Linked DNA regions of Homo sapiens. The protein of the gene in region 2 purifies or fractionates together with the protein of the main gene of each other region. This does not show direct contact. Each region holds a gene or a part of one and is shown on either strand. Other genes may lie near its edges.

Evidence for each region. The genes of interacting proteins can lie anywhere in the genome.
Region 1: the proteins of TAF1 (region 2) and KSR1 purify together in Homo sapiens (affinity purification with mass spectrometry, with the first as the bait; one large-scale study listed by BioGRID). This does not show direct contact.
Region 3: the proteins of TAF1 (region 2) and TAF9B purify together in Homo sapiens (affinity purification with western blotting; 4 studies listed by BioGRID and IntAct, with this or other methods). This does not show direct contact.
Region 4: the proteins of TAF1 (region 2) and PEX6 purify together in Homo sapiens (affinity purification with mass spectrometry, with the first as the bait; one large-scale study listed by BioGRID). This does not show direct contact.

Annotation. Positions count from the first base shown.
Region 1 is NC_000017.11:27,459,448-27,462,947, reverse strand, and holds part of KSR1 (kinase suppressor of Ras 1), read right to left. Parts: intron 1-3,500.
Region 2 is NC_000023.11:71,386,857-71,390,356, forward strand, and holds part of TAF1 (transcription initiation factor TFIID subunit 1), read left to right. Parts: intron 1-404; coding exon 405-605; intron 606-1,380; coding exon 1,381-1,522; intron 1,523-1,881; coding exon 1,882-2,012; intron 2,013-2,728; coding exon 2,729-2,809; intron 2,810-3,500. UniProt on the Homo sapiens protein: The TFIID basal transcription factor complex plays a major role in the initiation of RNA polymerase II (Pol II)-dependent transcription.
Region 3 is NC_000023.11:78,129,651-78,133,150, reverse strand, and holds the end of TAF9B (transcription initiation factor TFIID subunit 9B), read left to right. Parts: intron 1-1,377; coding exon 1,378-1,541; 3' UTR 1,542-3,403; downstream 3,404-3,500. UniProt on the Homo sapiens protein: Essential for cell viability. TAF9 and TAF9B are involved in transcriptional activation as well as repression of distinct but overlapping sets of genes. May have a role in gene regulation associated with apoptosis.
Region 4 is NC_000006.12:42,963,365-42,966,273, reverse strand, and holds the end of PEX6 (peroxisome biogenesis factor 6), read left to right. Parts: coding exon 1-32; intron 33-168; coding exon 169-230; intron 231-484; coding exon 485-593; intron 594-905; coding exon 906-1,022; intron 1,023-1,121; coding exon 1,122-1,199; intron 1,200-1,344; coding exon 1,345-1,484; intron 1,485-1,802; coding exon 1,803-1,939; 3' UTR 1,940-2,409; downstream 2,410-2,909. Other genes in the region: GNMT (glycine N-methyltransferase), read right to left, coding at 2,568-2,739, 2,825-2,909; CNPY3-GNMT (Glycine N-methyltransferase-like isoform 1 precursor), read right to left, coding at 2,568-2,739, 2,825-2,909. UniProt on the Homo sapiens protein: Component of the PEX1-PEX6 AAA ATPase complex, a protein dislocase complex that mediates the ATP-dependent extraction of the PEX5 receptor from peroxisomal membranes, an essential step for PEX5 recycling.

The sequences.
Region 1 (3,500 bases), on a different chromosome or scaffold from region 2:
ACACAATGCAGCCACTAATAGTGCTGATGCATATGTATATGTGCTGATACAGACAGAAGACATTTACAAGGCAATGCACATGGTATGTGCCACAAATATACACATGTACATTTATATGCAAATGCAGGAAGAATATACAACAAAATGTGCACTGGAATTAACTCTGAGAGGTGGCATTATGGGTGATTTTCACTGTTGTACATCTAGTACTTTCTTTTTTATAGTGAACATATATCATTATGTATTTTGTAAATATTTTAATTAAAAGTAGAAAGTTAAAGAATACACTGTTTATCAGAGGAACTGTTCAGAAAGAATAAGACAGGTAGCCATTTAAAAAATTATGAGTAAACTGATCTCTAGGCAGCTTCTCCTTTCTCAGAATGAGACAAGCGTAGAGCGGGCTGCATCATGGTGCTGAGAGTCCTGTCTTTGAGGATGTGCTAGCCTGGACATTAGGGAAGCAGACCCATGCCCGAACCCTGAGGCTGCACAGCCTGGGTGGCCACCAGGAAGCCCAAACATCTAGAGTTGAGCCACGGAATGCCCTCGGCCCAGCCCTTTTTATTATTGGCCATTTCCTTGGTCTCAGCAACCATGGCCCTGCACAGAATCTCCCCGCCACAGCAACAGCTGTGGAGTTCTGAACATAAGTTCTCAAGACCAGTCAACCTGGGTTCAACCACCTGCTAAGACAGTCTCTCCATCCCTCTGAGCTGCAATTCCCTCATCTGCAACATCAGGATAAGGCCTCATAGCATCATTGTGAATGTTAAGGTGCAACATATGCCGAGAGCCTAGTGGAGTGCTCAACATAGAACAGGTGATCAAGCACGTTCTTCATCTGTGTCTGCCCTCTCTACTCCAAGATCATTCCCCTAACCCCAAAGGCACCTATGCAGCTTTCCCTTTGAATTAAACATAAAAAAGAGATCTCAACCAGCCTCTTCTGAAAGGATGGCCTTTTAAAAAGGCATAGCTTAGAGAGACTTGGCCACAGGCTTTGCTGCTTCTCCCCGGCATTGCAGACACTGCCACCGTGGGCCAGCGTCTCCGCATGGTCCATCTCCAGACACACCCAGCGGGCAGGAGTAGAATACCTGCGGCGCACTTTCCTGGATTTTGAGGCAGCCCAGACCACTCCAAGAAGAGGAAACAACCCTGACGTGGAAGAAGGCATTCCCATAGCTGCAGGCAGCAAACCACACCTCCAGATCTGATAAGACCTCTCTCCAGCACCACCCAGCCCTCCCCAGGCTCACAGCCACTGCGGGTCTCCCTCCAGGCTGCCTCTAAGAAACATTTGGGAGGTAGGTTTCACCAGGGAAAAAGTTACCCGGGTGAAAGTGGACACAAAAAAGGGCCAGAGCCCCAGCTCTGTATCTCTTCAGAGACGGCTGGAGCCACTTGGCCAGAGGGTTACAACTGTGGCCACAGAGCAGAAGCAGAGAAACGCCACACTTTGAGACAGTGGCTGGGTGGGAAAGCAAAACCAGGTTTCAGTCTCAGTTCTGCCAGGGACCTGTGACTTGGGAGAAGTCCCCAAGACTCTGGGAATATTTCCCAGAAAACCAGGAGGTGGCTCACACTTGTAATCCCAGCACTTTGGGAGGCCAAGGTGGGTAGATCACTTGAGGCCAGGAGTTCGAGACCAGCCTGGCCAACACGGCAAAACCCTATCTCTACTAAAAACACGAAAATTAGCTGGACATAGTGGGGCATGCCTGTAATCCCAGCTACTCAGAAGCTAAGGCAGGAGAATTGCTTGAACCTGGGAGGCTGAGATTGCAGTGATCCGAGATCATGCCACTGTACTCCAGCCTGGGCGACAGAGTGGGACTCTGACTAAAAGAAAAACAAAAACAAAAACAAAAAACAAAACAAAACAAAAAAACCAGGAGGTTGGATGGGCCAAGGGTTCAGTGGGGTTCCCAATGCAGGGTCCTGCAAGCTGTGCTACTAAAGTCATTACTGTGCCCTGCCTGGCTCCTTCACTAGACTAGAACTGTCCCTAGACCCCAAAGACTGGGAGAACAGCCCACCTACTTCAGAGCCCTTGCTAGGTGGCTGCCAGCCAGGTAAGCACATCAACAGTAACTAAAGGTCTGTCCAGGGAACGTGCCTCAACACACCCTAAGGACCCAATCTGCAGGAATGCCACCCCTCCCCTCTCCCAGCAGTTCCATCATCAGATGCTCCTGGGAGGCATAGGGAGAGCTCAGGTCCCCCACACGGTGGGACTCTGACCTCTGCCACGGCAGAGCTGTGTGAGGGCCAGGCCTCTCTGACCTTCCAGATGGCAGGAGGGCCTCCCCTCTGACCCCCTGCGGCTCCAGGGCAACTGCTCAGGAAAGCAGCCCAAGGGCAGAGACTGTACCTACCACAGTTCCCAACATCGCCTCCCAGCACAGCCTGACTCTGCACCTACCACAGTTGCCAACATCACCTCCCCCAGCAAAGCCTGATGGTCAAAGTCCTTCAGCCCCTTTCTCCACGCCAGCTTGCTTAGGAGGGATTTTTCTCCACAAGAACACAAGGTGGGGAGACTCAGCATGGCAGAGCCTGTCTCTGGAAAGTACTAGTAGGCTGGCAGGAAAGGGCAAGTCACAATGTCCCTGGAACATAAATCTCCATGAGGCAACATGTGTCTGCTTCTACACACCCTTGTCTCCCCAGCGCTGGGCAGATTCAAAGGAATGAAGGTAATTATTACTGGCATAGGTTGCAGGCCCAGCTATTAGGCAGGCCAAGTGTCCCTCTGTGAGTACACTGGGGCATAAGAACATTCCCGTTTGCCTCGGTGGAGTTTTCAGACCCCTAGGAGGGTCTAGCGGAGACAGAACACCAGCTCCTGCCAGGATGAAGTAGCCTCACAACTTCTGTTTACAGATTAATACCCTGGTTTCAAATTGTGCCTCCCTCCCTTTATATTTAGAGAGGGAAAATGTGTATGATGAAAACTGCTGATCTCCAGGAACGTGTGTGAGTTTGAGAAGAGTCAGGCACGCTGCTAGGCACACAGGCAGCAAACGTTAAGTCTCAGCTCCTTCTACCCTTTTCCATCCAAACTGGACCACCACACAGAGAAAAGCTATCCCCGGACAACCAGACACGCTGACCCACTACACCCCATCACAACCCAATTTCAGGCAGCAGCAGCCCATCCCTGGTCAGGGACCTCCACGGACATTTCACGTGCTGCTTCTCCCACTGAGTGTTTATTTAATGAAGGCCAGAGTGAGCTGGGGCTCCTCAGATTCTAGATAAGTCCGATGCAGTTGCACAGGCCAAGCCCTCCAGGTCAGATCCTTCTTCAAAAGCCAGGAATCCAGTGTTGCAAGCACAGTCTCTGGGGCCACGGCCTGGTGTGTGGGGAGCCCACAGAACAGGAAAGAACGCTGGAGTGGACACTGCCACTTGCCTGCCTGGCCCCAACACATGCTGCTGGCGGTGGACGGTCCCACCCAGCTTGCTGAGATTGTTTCCTGGCTTGTGTCACC
Region 2 (3,500 bases):
TATAGTACTTGGTACATTATGAAGTGATTTTCATATGTAATCTTCATAGCAGTCCTGTGAGGTATAGGCATTTTTAAGTATCTCTGTTTTGTAGATGAGGAAAACTAAACTTAGACATGTTAAATAGCTTAAATAGACATGTTAAATCATAGAGGTAATGGCAGAGCTAGCATCATCTGAATTCACATCCTGTATTTTCTCCCCTACTGACTCTGAAAGATAGTGGATGAAAAATTGTTTAGTCACATTTGATAATCTATATTTTAATTTATTTGTATTACTGGATAGACCTTAGATGGCGTAATTAAGATGGAGAGCAATAAGCTTGGTATTTCTTTCTCAGCAGTTGACTGAATTTCCTAGGGCTACTCTGTATATAATTTTTGTGTTTTTACTTTTGTTAGGCATTTGAGAACAACCTTTTTCGTGCTCCAATTTATCTTCATAAGATGCCAGAAACTGATTTCTTGATCATTCGGACAAGACAGGGTTACTATATTCGGGAATTAGTGGATATTTTTGTGGTTGGCCAGCAGTGTCCCTTGTTTGAAGTTCCTGGGCCTAACTCCAAAAGGGCCAATACGCATATTCGAGACTTTCTACAGGTAAGAATGGGAGGATAGGGAGGGGATTGGGTTGTATACAGAAAGGGTATGTTGGGGCCGGGCATGGCGGCTCATGGCTGTAATCCCAGCACTTTGGGAGGCCGCGGTGAATGGATCACTTGAGGTCAGGAGTTCGAGACCAGCCTGACCATCATGGTGAAACCCTGTCTCTACTAAAAATACAAAAATTAGCTGGGCGTGGTGGCTCACGCCTGTGATCCCAGCACTTTGGAAGGCCGAGGTGGGCGGATCACCTGAGGTTGGGAGTTTGAGACCAGCCTGACCAACATGGAGAAACCCCGTCTCTACTAAAAATACAAAATTAGCCAGGCGTGGTGGCACATGCCTGTAATCCCAGCTACTCAGGAGGCTGAGGCAGGAGAATCGCTTGAACCTAGGAGGCGGAGGTTGCAGTGAGCCGAGATCGCACCACTGCACTCCAGCCTGGGCAACAAGAGTGAAACTCAGTCTCAAAAAAAAAAAAAAAATTTAGCCAGGCATGGTGGCGCACGCCTATGGTCCCAGCTACTCTGGAGGCTGAGGCAGGAAAATCACTGGAGCCCGGGAGGCAGAGGTTGCAGTGAGCTGAGATCAAGGCACTGCACTCTACTCTGGGTGACAGAGCGAGACTCCGTCTCAGAAAAAGTAGGCTGTGTGGGTTTGGGAGCACATCGGGAAAGATGAAAATACATTAGAGCTTAGCAAAGGAAGAGGCCCTAGTGAGGACTTTTATCCTTTTCTTTGCCAAATAAAATACACTTGGTTTGTTGGGCAGGTTTTTATTTACCGCCTTTTCTGGAAAAGTAAAGATCGGCCACGGAGGATACGAATGGAAGATATAAAAAAAGCCTTTCCTTCCCATTCAGAAAGCAGCATCCGGAAGAGGCTAAAGCTCTGCGCTGACTTCAAACGCACAGGTCGTCTGTTGTGACTAGTTATTTGTCTGCCTTTTTCCAAGAAAAGAATTTTGATGGCTTTGAGTTAAAGGATAAGCATATAGTTAATAAAATAGAAATTGATGGCTGTTGAAAGGAGGTAGCAGATCTTCTAACACTCTGGTTGCTTTTTTGAATTTGGCTGCCAGGAAGTTTAATGTGATTGTTGGATATCTTCTATGAGTTGTAGGAAACTTAGCAGCTGGGGTTTTCTTGGCCAGTCATGCCAACTGTGGCTAGGCCTGTTACAGTTTTGGTTTGCTGTCCCTGTTGCTGTCAATAAATATCAGGGCCTTTGGAATTCAGAATGGTCTCATTCTCTATGTATATGTCTTTTCCAGGGATGGACTCAAACTGGTGGGTGCTTAAGTCTGATTTTCGTTTACCAACGGAAGAAGAGATCAGAGCTATGGTGTCACCAGAGCAGTGCTGTGCTTATTATAGCATGATAGCTGCAGAGCAACGACTGAAGGTGAACACCTTCCTCTTAGACACCACTTATGCCTGTGGTTTTTTGTTTTTTTTTTTCTTCCCCCCAGAGAGATGAGAGAGAAGATTCTTTCTCTGACTGGCTTAGGGAGGATGGTTTACTAGATTATTACCAATTACTAAAAAGTTCAATTTGTATAAAGTACTTCTACGTACATCAGTTCTGGAGAAAAACTATAGTGTAGCTAAGTATCAGTGGGAAGGCATAATGAGGAACTTTGGGCATATTGTTTTGCTTTGAAAATGGTGACTGGGTGACTTTAATCTCTTCTTTGCAAGATAAGCATATAAGCAGGGAAAGTACTTGTCAGCCTCTCAGGTAGGCAGAGATGATGATGGTGCTGAATGTGTGGTTTAGAGAAGCACAGAATTCTTATAAGGCCAAAAGAGAAAAGGTCCAGCTGAGGTGTGACAGCACAGCTCTGTCCCACTGAGTTAATGAGACTCAGTTATTGAGCATCTCTGTTCAGCTTGCTTATGGGCTGTAACTATCTGTATATCAGCTAGTAAGCTCCTTGGCATGTTGTAATGTATCTTATAGCTTAAGGATGTGCCGTGGTGTTAGATATAGTGAAGACTTTATGGAATCCATCTATGCAAAATAGACTTTGGTATTCTGTACTTGTATTCAGTAAAAAAAAAACTTGTGCTTTGTGTTTTTTAACTGACTGATTTATGCATGGATCTGTCCTCTTCCAGGATGCTGGCTATGGTGAGAAATCCTTTTTTGCTCCAGAAGAAGAAAATGAGGAAGATTTCCAGATGAAGATTGATGATGAAGTAAGGCTTTATACTAGTTTGTATTAGTCATTAATACATCTCATTTATCCTTTTAAAAGAGACAGCTTTATTGAGATAACATAAAATAAACTGTACACATTTAAAGTATACTGTTAGATGTTCTTGCTTTATTCATGCCAGAAAAAATGATGCGATATATCAAATATTATATTTTATATGATATGGGTTTGTTTTTTTTTGTTTGTTTTGTTTTTTGACAGAATCTTGCTCTGTCACCCAGGCTGGAGTGCAGTGGTGGCATGACCTCGACTCACTGCAACCTTCACCTACCGGGGTTCCTGCAATTCTCGCGATTCTCCTGCCTCAGCCTCCCGAGTAGCTGAAATTACAGTTGCACGCCACCATGCCCAGCTAATTTTTTGTATTTTTAGTAGAGATGGTGTTTCACCATGTTGGCCAGACTGGTCTTGAGCTCCTGACCTCAAGTGATCCTCGTGCCTTGGCCTCCCAAAGGGCTGGGATTACAGGCATGAGTCACTGCACCTGGCAGGATTTTCATTTCTTCTAGAAAAAAGACTTTGACCTGATTTATAAGACTTCACATGATTTGGGCCTTGCATATTAATCTGACCTCCTTTCATCTCCTGTCACTGCCTGTCTTATATTCTAAGCTCCAACCATACCGAAGTTCATTCAGTTTCCTAAATTTCTCTTCCCTTTCAGAATTTTT
Region 3 (3,500 bases), 6.7 Mb from region 2:
TCTCCCCCCTTATCCTTGAGGGATTGTTCCAAGACCCCCAGTTAAATTTACAACCTTTAAAGTTAAATTTATAAACTTTCTAAATTATAAGGTTTAATTTATAAATTAGGCACGGCAAGAAATTAACAATAATTAATTAACAATTACAACAACATACTGTAATAAAATATATGTGAGTGTGATCTCTCAAAGTATCTTACTGTACTGTACTCATCTATTTTTGGATCGCAGTTGACCACAAGTAGCTGAAACTGCAGATAAGGGGGGACTACTATATATGTAACGTTTTGGGGAGGAGGGAAAGAGTATTCAGTGTGTTCATCAGATTTTCAAAGAACACCGTCAGCTAAACAGTTAGGGTCCACAAATCTAAGTCGTCTTCAAGGAAAAGCAGTTAAGGTAAAAGCTCAAGAAAGCGACAAAACTTAGTGATGAATATGTGTATGCAATCCAGAACATAAATGTAAATTCAAATGAAATTGTACCTTTACTTCATAGGATACACACACACACACACACACACACACACACACACACACAGATTGGAATAAGAATTCTGTCATAGCACAGTTTACTAATGTGTATGTCTAGATTTCATATCTTCTGAAACCTAACCACACACAATAAGCAACTAACGTAAAATACTGGCCTATTAGGGAAGTGATTCCTGACCTTGAACATAGGCCTTTGTTTAATATGTTGCATGATGAATCCAGTGCAGTTTCCCATGACTAAATTGAAATTCTAGGTTGTTAAAATACAACAGAACTTCTTCAACCTTGTACTAGATATGTTTAATCTTTATCTATACATAGATCAGAACATCACATTATATCCCGTACATATACACAATTATTGGCAGGGTACAATGGCTCACACCTGTAATCCCAGCACTTTGGGAGACCGAGGCGGGAGGATCACTTGAGGCCAGGAGTTCGAGACCAGCCTGGCCAACGTGGTGAAACCCCGTCTCTACTGAAAATACAAAAATTAGCCAGGTTTGGTGGTACACGCCTATAATCCCGGCTACTTGGGAACCTGAGGCACGAGAATCACTTGAACTCAGGAGGCGGAGGTTGCAGTGAGCCAAGATCACGCCAGCTTGGACGACAGAGCGAGACACTGTCTCAAAAAAATAGTAATTTAAAAATAAATACACAATTATTATTTGCCAATTAAAAATAAAGATTTTTTAAAATTTAATTCAACTCATTGCAGTATAAGTACCTATGTTTCTTCTATGATATAGTTGCACTTCATGCTATTGAAATTGGTATTAGAATTACATTCAGCTTTGTTGTATACTTTTTATCATATGTTTCAGATTCTGGGTAATTCATAGCTTGGTTTTGGGGGGGCTTTCTTCTCTGTTTACAGTTCCTGCAACAACTGCAGTTCAAAATGTTCTGATTAATCCTTCAATGATTGGGCCCAAAAATATTCTTATTACCACCAACATGGTTTCGTCACAGAACACAGCCAATGAAGCAAACCCACTGAAGAGAAAACATGAAGATGATGATGACAATGATATTATGTAAGGAATATAGTCTAGTCTAGATGCATTTCAAAAGGAAAGTTGGTTTTGAGCCCAGTATACTGAACTAGAATATTCTAGATCTTGTTTTACCTTAAAAGACTGAAATGTAGCTGCAGTATTTTTCGTCAGTTAAAACTGTTAGATCTCTTTAGTAAACATACAAATGTGTTTTTCAGTAGGCTTCAATTACAAACAGTTAAGTACTTGTTTCTTAATAGTTTCATTAATGTTGAGTCCTAATATGGCAATTCTGTTTTTGAGACACTTTTCTGCCTTCTATCACTGATAGTAGCATTTAAGTTTCAGATTCTACAGCCTAGTCAGCAGATTTATCTTTGACAGCATAATTTCTGATCTACATTTAAATACTACTTTATTTTATAAGGTAATATAGTTACTTACTGTCACTAGCTAATTTTTTTTTTTTTACCAAATCTCTCAATATAGGAAACATTTTTTGGAAAGGATGGATTTAGAGGAGAGATTCTAAATCCATTTTGGATGTATTTGTTTCTTTGACTTCCTTAACTTCCAAACTCAACTCCCTTTCTAGATCCCATTCATTTTCTGCACCTCCCCCATAGGCTTGTTTCTCTCCATTGCTATTAAATGTAGAAGGCCATACCTGGAATTTTAAAAATATTATTCCTGGTAATACAGCTCAGTGTCATTTTCCTATTTTTAAAACATGCTCTACATGCCTAATGTTTTGTGATTCACTTTAACCTGATGGTTTGCATTTGCTGTTTTTCACTCTTATGTCAGAGCAGTTGGGTTTTACCCCTTAGTTTTTATGCCTGTTAAGCTTTACTGTGCTTTTGACAGGTAGTTTTGGGTCAGTTATATTCAGTTTTAGTATTGTATTCCAAGTTGATAACTCTTCCATGTTTCACATTTCTAAATTTAACAGAGATGCTGTAGCTTAAAACATGTTTTGATAAGTAATTACACTGGACCTAGGCAAAACCACTGAAGAACAAGTGTTCCTTTTTACCACATACATATTATGTTTTGATCACTGCTGCTTGAGCCCCGCTATTGGTATAATTCAGATCATTTTAGCTTGTTGCTGAGGATGTCACATATAAGACAGGATCAAACCTGAAAGACACTAATGGTTCATCCTCTATAAGGCCAACAAAGAAAACAAATTAATGTGATGTAACTTGCATTTATGTGCACTCTGCATAGGTTTCCCAATAATACTGTAATGTTGCTGAACACCTTTCCCTGTTTTCCATTTATACACATATTAAAGTCATATTGGGAAAGATGGCAAAGCTTTTGAGAATATAAACACACCTGTTTTGTTTTTCTTAAGTTCAACATACTTTTGTAGAATTTGTAAAATAAATGTTCGTATCATAATTGAGAATTTATAGCCAAGGATCCTCAAAACAGAAGTTTCATCTTAGGATAGTGTTTGATATATCTAAGAAAGTCCAGTAACAGAGAAGAAATGTCTCAAATGTCTCGTATCAGTTTTAGTGTTTTTCAGTATTAGGGAAAGGTAATATAAAAACAGGTAAAATGTATAAAAATAGACCTGATCAACATCATAGGAGATAAATATTCATTATATAGCATAGGATATTATTACTTGAATGTTCTCAGGGAGGCAGCAAGTCAGAAGGCCTAGGTTCTAGTCCTAGCTCCATCATTTACCAACTGTGTGACCTTACTTCACCTCTTAGCCTTGTTCTCCTCACTAGCAGTAGGAAAGTAACACCTACCCTGCCTACCTCACAGGGCTGTTGTGAGGGTTCAATTGGTATATGTGAAAATTCTTTCAGAATTGTAAAATGCTATATGACTGTAAGGAATTATTGCATTTGTTCCAAGGTTAATAAAAATTTGAGCTTATCAGTGTTTTCATTTTTTAGGATTCAAGGGAGATGAACAAAGCCCAGTAATTCTGATGGCCAAAGACCAGTAAGATTTGTTTAATGGTTATATATCA
Region 4 (2,909 bases), on a different chromosome or scaffold from region 2:
GTAGCCACTGAGTGCAGCCTTACCTTCCTCAGGTGGCCAGGGGGCCTGGAAGGGATGGTGGGTGGATCAGGGGCTGCAGCAGGCTGGGGAGCAGGAGGGGCTGCCCAAGAGGTCAATTGTGTGTATGTGCATCTGACGGCTCTCACCTTCTCACATCCTCTCACTCAGCGTGAAGGGGCCAGAGCTCATTAACATGTATGTGGGCCAAAGTGAGGAGAATGTGCGGGAAGGTGAGTGAGCAGGGAGGGGCAGGGCGTCCCATGCTTCCCAAACCCCGATGGCCCCCAAGCCACCCCCTACTCCCAGGCTACTCATGATCATTCCTAATCCTCCTTTCTACAAGTCAGGTTCCTGCCCAGCTGGGTCTAGTACCTGGGATGCCAGTGCTGTATTGTCAGGCCCCAGTTTCCCTCCCTGCTCTCACCTAACTTCAACCCCCCACAAGCCGAGCTTTGCCCTCCTGTGGGCCCCTCTCTCTCTTCAGTGTTTGCCAGGGCCAGGGCTGCAGCTCCATGCATTATCTTCTTTGATGAACTGGACTCTTTGGCCCCAAGCCGGGGGCGAAGTGGAGATTCTGGAGGAGTGATGGACAGGTAGGGGTCTGAGTGGGAATGAAAGCTGAGGGGTCCAGGGTGGGAAGGATATGAGAAAGCTCACAGCAGTCTTCAGAGTCCAGAGATAGAAGTTCCTGCTGTTTCAGTTCTGAGATAATATAATGGAAGCTGAAAGGGGCCATGAAATTGGGCAGGGTCCACTGAGGAGAATGGGGGCCTACCTGGTGGGGCACATTGGGCACAGCTGAGTGGAGGGCCCTGTTGAGACTGCCTGTAAAGAGAGGTACCACAGGCAGGGGCAGAGTCTAAGGGGGACACCAAGGACTCTTGCCCTTGCTCCCTTCTCTCCAGGGTGGTGTCTCAGCTCCTTGCCGAGCTAGATGGGCTGCACAGCACTCAGGATGTGTTTGTGATTGGAGCCACCAACAGACCAGATCTCCTGGACCCTGCCCTTCTGCGGCCTGGCAGGTGGGCCCCTTGTACTGCTCATCTCCACCCTCATTTTGTGCCTCCTTCACCCCTCATGGCTGGGCTCCCTGAAACTTATACCTGCCTATCTCCCTAAAGATTTGACAAGCTGGTGTTTGTGGGGGCAAATGAGGACCGGGCCTCCCAGCTACGCGTTCTAAGTGCCATCACACGCAAGTATGCTCTGTTAGAGGAAGACTGCGAAGGGCTTGGGCCTTGGGATGCTTAGGGGATGCATGCAACATGCAGGATGAGCTGGTCAGCACTGGCTTTCGAGGGAGGAGGTGATGCCAACTCTGTTTCTTCCTGTATCCCACAACAGATTCAAGCTAGAGCCATCTGTGAGCCTGGTAAACGTGCTAGATTGCTGCCCTCCCCAGCTGACGGGCGCGGACCTCTACTCTCTCTGCTCTGATGCTATGACAGCTGCCCTCAAACGCAGGGTTCATGACCTGGAGGAAGGTGAGCCACTTGCCGGTCTGAGAGGTCAACCAAAAAGCTAGTGGGGAGCTGGGTGCACCTGAGTCCCAGCTACTTGAGAGGCTGAGGTGGGAGGATCGCTTGAGCCCAGGAGTTTGAGGCCAGCCTGGGCAACACAGAGAGACCCCAACTCTAAAAAAAATGTTTAAGGGAAAAAAAAAACTAGTGGGAGACAAACCTAGTCCTGGATTCCAGAGGGAAGATCATTGACATCTAGGAGACCCTGAGCAGGAAGCCACCTTCGCAGGGCTCTCCCCTGCCTGGGCATAGACCACAGCCTCCCCACCTTGTCATCTCCAGGGCTGGAGCCAGGTAGCTCAGCACTGATGCTCACCATGGAGGACTTGCTGCAGGCTGCCGCCCGGCTGCAACCCTCAGTCAGTGAGCAGGAGCTGCTCCGGTACAAGCGCATCCAGCGCAAGTTTGCTGCCTGCTAGGAGCCCCCCAGGGTCTGGGACCCCGCTCAGCATGGCTGCAGGTACCTTGATAGCCCACAGAGAGATCTGGGAAGGAAGGGCTCCTCCTCAGGCTGCTGCCAACCCACCTGGAGGCCACCTCCCTCCAGGAGATCCCAGGGTGCAAAGTGGCATTGAGACAGCAGCAACAGCTCAAGAGATATCTCCTGCCTACTTGCCCCTCCTTCCAGGCCGGCTCTAAGAGAAAGGCCCATCTACTCAGGAAGAGGGCCAGGGCCTTGGGTTCTGGGGATTGGGCCCTGAGAGGGCTAGTTCTGTGGCTGAAAATAAAGCATGTCCCGCCCCCTACTGGTGTTGTGGCATGAAAGGTTGGAGTGAGAAAGAGCAGGGTTGTGGGAGGAGTAAGCCCTGGGAGAGGGTGGGGGGGTGGGCAGCATGGGAGCCTGATCCTTCTGACATAAATAAACACAATGCATGCAGGAACTGAAAAAGACTATATTGTTTACCCTTCCGTCTGTGGAACCCACATCCCTGCACCCCAGCTGTAGTCTGCTCTAGAGGCTGGCCCTGGTGTGGGGCTGCTGGTCCCCATCTTCCAGACAGAGCCTAGCAGTGCCTGGGCAGAGGCTTGTGGGAGCTGAGGCCACACTCAGTCTGTCCTCTTGAGCACGTGGATGAAGTAGCAGGGAATGTAGGTTTGGCCTGGCTTGTAAGGCTTGAAGTCGCCCAGGACGCTGTGCTGGCACTTACCTCCGAAGGCTGCTTGGAGCAGCTCCGTGAAGGATGCCAGACAGTGTGGGTAGTAGGAGAGCCGGAACTTACTGTAACAGAGGCCCCAGCAACCATGAGGACTGGTGACCTCAGCTCCCCCAACTACCGCCTCACCCCCACTAAGCCAAGTGGTACCTCAAGCCAGGAGAGCCATCCTGGCCAGCCCCCGGCACCTGCACCGTATAGTCCAGGGTCACCATGTGGGCCTTGTTGTTCACTA